Homo sapiens: one gene and its partner. The protein of the gene in region 1 purifies or fractionates together with the protein of each later gene. This does not show direct contact. Each region holds a gene or a part of one and is shown on either strand. Other genes may lie near its edges.

The links.
Region 2: the proteins of DDX24 (region 1) and KRR1 purify together in Homo sapiens (affinity purification with mass spectrometry; 3 studies listed by BioGRID and IntAct, with this or other methods). This does not show direct contact.

Annotation. Positions count from the first base shown.
Region 1 is NC_000014.9:94,071,203-94,074,702, reverse strand, and holds part of DDX24 (ATP-dependent RNA helicase DDX24), read left to right. Parts: intron 1-3,500. UniProt on the Homo sapiens protein: ATP-dependent RNA helicase that plays a role in various aspects of RNA metabolism including pre-mRNA splicing and is thereby involved in different biological processes such as cell cycle regulation or innate immunity.
Region 2 is NC_000012.12:75,498,110-75,501,609, reverse strand, and holds part of KRR1 (KRR1 small subunit processome component homolog), read left to right. Parts: exon of another isoform or gene 1-1,658; coding exon 1,659-1,801; 3' UTR 1,802-2,631; coding exon of another isoform or gene 2,632-2,786; 3' UTR 2,787-2,889; coding exon of another isoform or gene 2,890-2,916; 3' UTR 2,917-3,500. Other genes in the region: GLIPR1 (glioma pathogenesis-related protein 1 precursor), read right to left, coding at 2,632-2,786, 2,890-2,916. UniProt on the Homo sapiens protein: Part of the small subunit (SSU) processome, first precursor of the small eukaryotic ribosomal subunit.

The sequences.
Region 1 (3,500 bases):
TAGCAGAATTTTGAATTGTAGTGGTAAAGTGGGCATTATTGCTTTGTGTTTGATCTTCTGGGGAAAACATTTAGTCTTTCACCATTAAGTCTGATCTTAGCTGTAGGTTTTTTGTAGGTGCTTTTTATCACGTTGTGGAAGTTCTCTTTGATTTCTCATTTGCTGAGAGGTTTTATCAGGGTTGGATGTTGGATATTTTTCAAATGCTTTTTTACTGCATATATTGAAATAGGTGGTTTTTCATTTTTAGTCTGCCAATGTGGTGAATGACATTGATTTTCAATTATGAAATTAGACTTACATTCCTGGGATAAACTGAACTTGGTCACAATATACTATTCTAATTATATTTTGTTGGATTTGATTTGCTAAAATTTTGTTGAGAATTTTTGAACTTATGTTCATGGGATAGTTGTAGTTTTCTTGTAATGTTTTGGTGTTGGAATCAGTAATGTAGCTTCAGAATGATTTCTGAAGTATTCTGTTCAGTTTTCTGAAAGAATTTATACAGGATTGACATTTTATACCCAACTTAAATTTTTGGTAGAATTCATCTGAGCCTGCACTTGTCTTTGTAGGAAGATTTTTGACTACAAATTTACTTTGTTTAATAGATTAGAGATATTTGTGTTACTTATTTTTTTCTTTTTTTTTTTTTTTGAGATGGAGTCTCGGTCTGTTGCCCAGGCTGGAGTGCAGTGGTGCGATCTCAGCTCACTGCAAGCTCTGCCTCCTGGGTTCACACCATTCTCCTGCCCCAGCGTCCCAGGTAGCTGGGACTACAGGTGCCCACCACCATGCCCGGCTAATTTTTTGTATTTTTAGTAGAGACAGGGTTTCACCGTGTTAACCAGGATGGTCTCAATTTCCTGACCTCGTGATCTGCTCGCCTCGGCCTCCCAAAGTTCTGGGATTACAAGCATGAGCCGCCACACCCGGCCACTTATTTTTTTCTTGAGTGACTGTTTTCTACTTGCAGTTCTATTAGTTTTTGTTTCATGTATTCTGACAATCAGTTTATGTGAATACATGTTTTATGGATTAAAATATTAGATTATTATTATATCCTCTAAATGAATTGGCTTGTTATCGTTATGAAATGGCCCCCTTTATCCTTAGTAATTTTTTTTTGTTCTAAAATGTCCTTTGGTATTGATGCAGCCAGTCCAGCTTTATTGATTAAGGGGTTAGCATGGTATGTGTTTTTCAATACTATTACTTTCCCTTATTTATATTTAATGTGAATTTCTTATAGGCAGCATATAAATGGGTCTTGCTGTTTAATCAGACAGTTCGTGTCTTTGAGTTGAATTATTGAAGCCAGGCATGGTGGCTCACATCTGTAATCCCAGCACTTTGGGAGGCCAAGGCATGTGGATCACTTGAGGCCAGGAGTTCAAAACCAGCCTGGCCAACATGGCGAAACTGTCTCTACTAAAAATACAAAAAAATAGCCAGGCGTGGTGGCATGTGCCTGTAGTCCCAGCTGCTTGGGGGGCTGAGCCACAAGAATTGCTTGAACCCAGGGGGCGGAGGTTGCAGTGAGCTGAGATTGTGCCACTGCACTCCATCCTGGGTGACAGAGTGAGACTCTATCTCAAAAAAAAAAAAAAAAAGAAAAGAAAATTAATTGAGTTACTGAGATTATTTACGTTTAATGATTATTGATAATGGTGGGTTTACTTATTTATTTTTTGACTGATAGCATACCTGATTTATTTATTTTTTTCACATTTCTGTTTTTTATTTTAAATTTTTTTTTCCTTTTCTATGTTTAGATGTTTATTTTTAATTTTTTTAAATTTTTCCATAAGTTATTGGTGTACAAGTGGTATTTGGTTACATGAGCAAGTTTTTTTGTTTGTTTGTTTTTTGAGACGGAGTCTTGCTTTGTCACCCTGGCTGGAGTGCAGTAGTGCTATCTCAGCTCACTGCAATCTCCACCTTCTGGGATCAAGCCATCCTCCTTCCTCAGCCTCCCAAGTAGCTGAACTACAGGCATGTGCCACCATGCCCGGCTACTTTTTGCATTTTTAGTAGAGACAGGGTTTCACCACGTTGGCCAGGTTGGTCTTGAACTCCTGAACTCAAGTAATCTGCCCACCTCGGCCTCCCAAAGTGTTGGGATTACAGGCGTGAGCCACTGTGCCAGTTTAGTGGTGATTTGTGAGATTTTGGTGCACCTATCACCCGAGCAATATACGCTACACCATATTTGTAGTATTTCATCCCTTGCCCCTCTTTCATTCTTCCCCCCAAGTACCCGGAGTCCATTGTATCATTCTTATGCTTTTGCATCCTCATAACTTAGTCCTGCATATCAGTGATAACATACGATGTTTGGTTTTCCATTCCTGAGTTACCTCACTTAGAATAATAGTCTCCAGTCTCATCCAGGTCACTGCAAATGCTGTTAATCCATTCCTTTTTATGGCTGCATAGTATTCCATCCTGTATATACCACAGTTTCTTTATCTACTCGTTGATTGATGGGCATTTGGGTTGGTTCCATGATTTTGCAGTTGTGAATTGTGCTGCTATAAAATTATGTGTGAAAGTATCTTTTTTGTATAATGACTTCTTTTCCTCTGGGTAGATACCCAGTAGTGGGATTGCTTGATCAAATGGTAGTTCTACTTTTAGTTCTTTAAGGAATCTCCACGCTGTTTTCCATAGTGGCTATACTAGTTTGCTTTCCCACCAGGACATAGAAGTGTTCCTTGTTCACCACATCCATGCCAACATTGTTTTTTTTTTGAGATGGAGTTTCGCTCTTGTTGCCCAGGCTGGAGTGCAATGGCGCAATCTCGGCTCACTGCAACCTCTGCCTCCCGGGTTCAAGTGATTCTCCTGCCTCAGCCTCCCGAGTAGCTGGGATTACAGGCATGCGCCACCATACCCAGCTAATTTTGTATTTTTAGTAGAGACGTGGTTTCTCCATGTTAGTCAGGCTGGTCTCAAACTCCCGACCTCGGGTGATCCGCCCATCTCGGCCTCCCAAAGTGCTGGGATTACAGGTGTGAGCCACTGTGCCCGGCTTTTTTTCTTTTTTTAAGTCAAAGGCTCACTCTGTTGCCCAGGCTGGGGTGCAGTGGCACAATCTTGGCTCACTGCAACCTCCGCTTCCCAGGTTCAAGTGATTCTCCTGCTTCAGCCTCCTTAAGTAGCTGGGATTACAGGTGCCTGCCACCATGCCCGACTAATTTTTGTATTTTTAGTAGACATGGGGTTTCACCATGTTGGCCAGGCTGGTCTTGAACTCCTGACCTCAGGTGATCTGCCCACCTCAACCTCCGGAAGTGCTGGGATTACAGGCATGAGCAACCGTGCCTGGCTGCCAACATCTACTGTTTTTTGATTTTTTGATTATGGCCATTCTTGCAGGAGTAAGGTGGTATCACATTGTGGTTTTGCTTTGCATTTCCCTGATCATTAGTGATGTTGAGCATTTTTTCATGTTTGTTGGCCATTTGTGTATCTTCTTTTGATAATTGTCTATT
Region 2 (3,500 bases), on another chromosome or scaffold:
TTTCATTAATTACTAATCCTAAGGACAAGGGATGGCTGAGATAATTTATAATTTAGAGGCAGCTAATGCCTATTTCAGTGCAAACTGGATTGACAGTCCTCTCCTGACCTCTGGTCTGTGCTTGGAAAAGACTCTTTGTTGTGAAAGATACAAACCCAGGGCAGCCAGTGCATCTTCTGTAGAAATGCAAGAAGATCCCTGAGCTCTGCTGTCATGCCTCTCAAAGAGGAATTATCAGAAGTTGTACTTTTTCTTCTCTTTATGTGATCTTGGCTTAGAGTTTGGCTTCTATATCGGTAACATGGATTTCTCATCACCTTAGACTAAAGGATGCTGACAGGTCTTATTCAGGAGCTATTAGTGCGAAAGTGATTGTGGTTTTTAAATGGCAGAAATCACTTTCGCACTAACCTAGTATTTAAAAGACACTAAGAGAAAACATTGTCATGCCATTTCTTCTGATGCATCCTCTTCTGCATTTTTTTCCCCTGTGGTAACACTTATCCTCTTCCTAAAGTAACCCTCCAAAGTGAACAGTGACACACTGAAGGGAGAGGGCTCACCAGCAATATTGTACATAGACTGGGTCAGAAACAGATATAATACATTATTATTTTAATATATTGCTTGTTAATAGCTTTAAAAATACTACATTCTATGGTAGATTATTGGTTATATAAAAGGTAGAAATGTCATAAGTATTATAATTTCCAGTCTGTAAAACCTGTCAGTTGAGTGCTTTGAAGGTACTCAATATACTCAATAGCTAGTTACCCTAATTTAGTTTCTCCACACGGTGGAGGCTTTAACACTCTGTGCTTCTCAGGTTGCTGGGTAGTTTGATGTTTTATCTTATGATTCTTTTATGCTGTGATCCTGTACTTTGAATGGTAAGAAAAAGTTGCATTCTTTTTCACTGCTTCCTTTCTCTATTTTGTTCACACTTTTGGCATTGATTAGATAGTTGGCTTCTATTAGGGGGACTTCCACACACTCTCAAATTATTGTCTTTATTACCAAAATGTTGTTAAATATACCAAAATCTTGTTAAAATACTATTAATTAGTCATTCATTGAATTAATATTCAATGAATTAATCTAACATTAAATGAATTAATTCATTGAATATTCAATTAATATTGAATTAATATTTGGAAAACTTTAAATTTTCGTTTTGATATTAGAGGAAGTAGATTTTGACCTCTAGCTTAGGGTTAGCTGATTAAACTTATTGAGAAGGGATACATGTAATTTTAAATTATTTTAATGTGCAAGATGGAAAATAATGACTCAGAAGTTCCAAAATATGGAAAAGAATGTAGGTAAAATAATTTAGTCTGAAGTAGGATTTAAGGAAATAGTCTTAATATAGTTGAATCCAGTAATTGGTTCAATTATGCCATTTATGCCATTTTTATGTATACTTGTACTAATATATAAAGTATTTTATGATTTGTTTTATCTTAATCTGAAGAAATTTCTAACTGCTTTAGGCAAGTGTTTTTATATTTTATACTGTGATCACCTTTCAATTATTCAATTATAAGAATACTCTGAAGTTAACTGCCTTAAACATATATTCTTTGTTAAACATATATTCTTTGTTTTACTTGGTAAAATCTAAAGTATTACATGTGTTGTGCTTTTAATTTGTCTAGCTTCTACTGAAACTAAAATTGATGTGGCCAGCATCAAGGAAAAGGTTAAGAAAGCAAAGAATAAGAAACTGGGAGCTCTTACAGCTGAAGAAATTGCACTTAAGATGGAGGCAGATGAAAAGAAAAAGAAGAAAAAAAAGTAACATACCCAAAACTCCTTGACTAGAACTATCTCCTTTTGTAAAGGATTTTGAGATATCAGGCATTAGTTGCCTTATTTGTGAGAAATTTTCTGAGGGCTTTTTTTTTTTTTGGTGGTGGTGGTTGTTCATAGAAGAGTGTTCTTTATAAATTATATTATTATTGTATTTTTTGAAAAATTTATACGAGAAAGTGGTATATAAGTCTTTGTATACATTACGACCATTGTGATTATCCATTAAATCCAGTGTCTGATGCTATTGGTTAGTAATGATGTCCCAGCATTTGATGTTCCCTCTCTAATGATAACAAGTAAATATTTAGGTTTATCCCTTTTGAAAGTTTGGTTTTACTTTTAACAGTCCATGAACAGAAAATTAAGGCCTCTAAAATCAGATCCCCTAGTTACTCCTCTGTTCTGAATCTGGGGAAGTAGTAAACCAAAAAGACAGGGAAAACCAGATATTTAGAGTCGAAGCAGCATGCAAAAAATAATAATGTTTTTAACTAATGAAGGCTACTGGAGTTACTAAGAATCACCTAAAAATGTGCTACTGTACCTTGCTCATTTTGCAGATTTAGAAGCTGAAACATGGGTTAGGTTACTTACTAAAAGTCCACCTGTGGCAACCTGCAAATAATGCTTATTTATACTAAAGATGAGTTTATCTGATAGAGTTAGGAAATTTCTTCTTTTGAGTAAGAGTATTGCTATAACATATATTTTTTTCTGAAATGTTTTAAAATAGAAGTACACCTAATTGTTATTGGTTAAAAAAAAAGCCATATGTGAATGAGGTTGGTTTTTGGGTTTTTTCTTTCCTGAATTGTATTAGTCCAAAAGAACTAAATTAGGGTACTTGTGCTGTACCAAAATGGTAATTATAACAGACAGTATTAGAATTACTGAATTAACAATGAGAAAGAGAGAAGTGTATCTGTTACGTGGATATATGGGCCAGCCTGGATATACAACAGAGTAGTAACCTGTGAAACAAACATAGAATATCCTCTTAGACATTGTTCCTCATAATGCACTGACAGAATTCACATAGCTCTTAATGAAACAATTTAAGATTGATGTACGTACGTTTGACTTGGTCTCGCTGTCGGTTAACTGTAAAGTTAGGGGGAAGAAAGAAAAAAAATTAAAAGGGTAGACACAGTTGAGAGTTTTATTTTAAAAAGCTAAGTCTTATAATTATGACCATTAACTTGCTTTGGCTTTATTGCAGTGACTTTCCAAGTTTAATTATTCAAAACTTTTTGAACTGACTGAATTAACTTGGTATTTTTAAGTTGACTTTTTACATAAACTTTATAAACCTTTTATAAAAAGGAAACTATACCATTACTATAAATGGAAAATCATTTTACACATCATACCTAGCAGGTAATAAAATTTAAAAAATAAAAATTAAATATTAGAATGTGAGAAATTTATTAAAATATAGTTCTAAAAATAAGTTTCTTCCTGAGAAGAATGATACTGTTTATGATGAATCCATAGTGAAAAGACAGTGACCTCTCTTTCATCCAGTCTAGTATATCACTAAATCATCATTACGATGTTTGGCTATCAAGTCATTAATTACTGTCCTCCTTTCACTGAGCTTTATTCAAATTTTGACAATCAGAGCACTGGGAAGAAATAAATTCCACAACTGCCTTTAGCCTTCTGGATACTTTCTTTTATAAAAT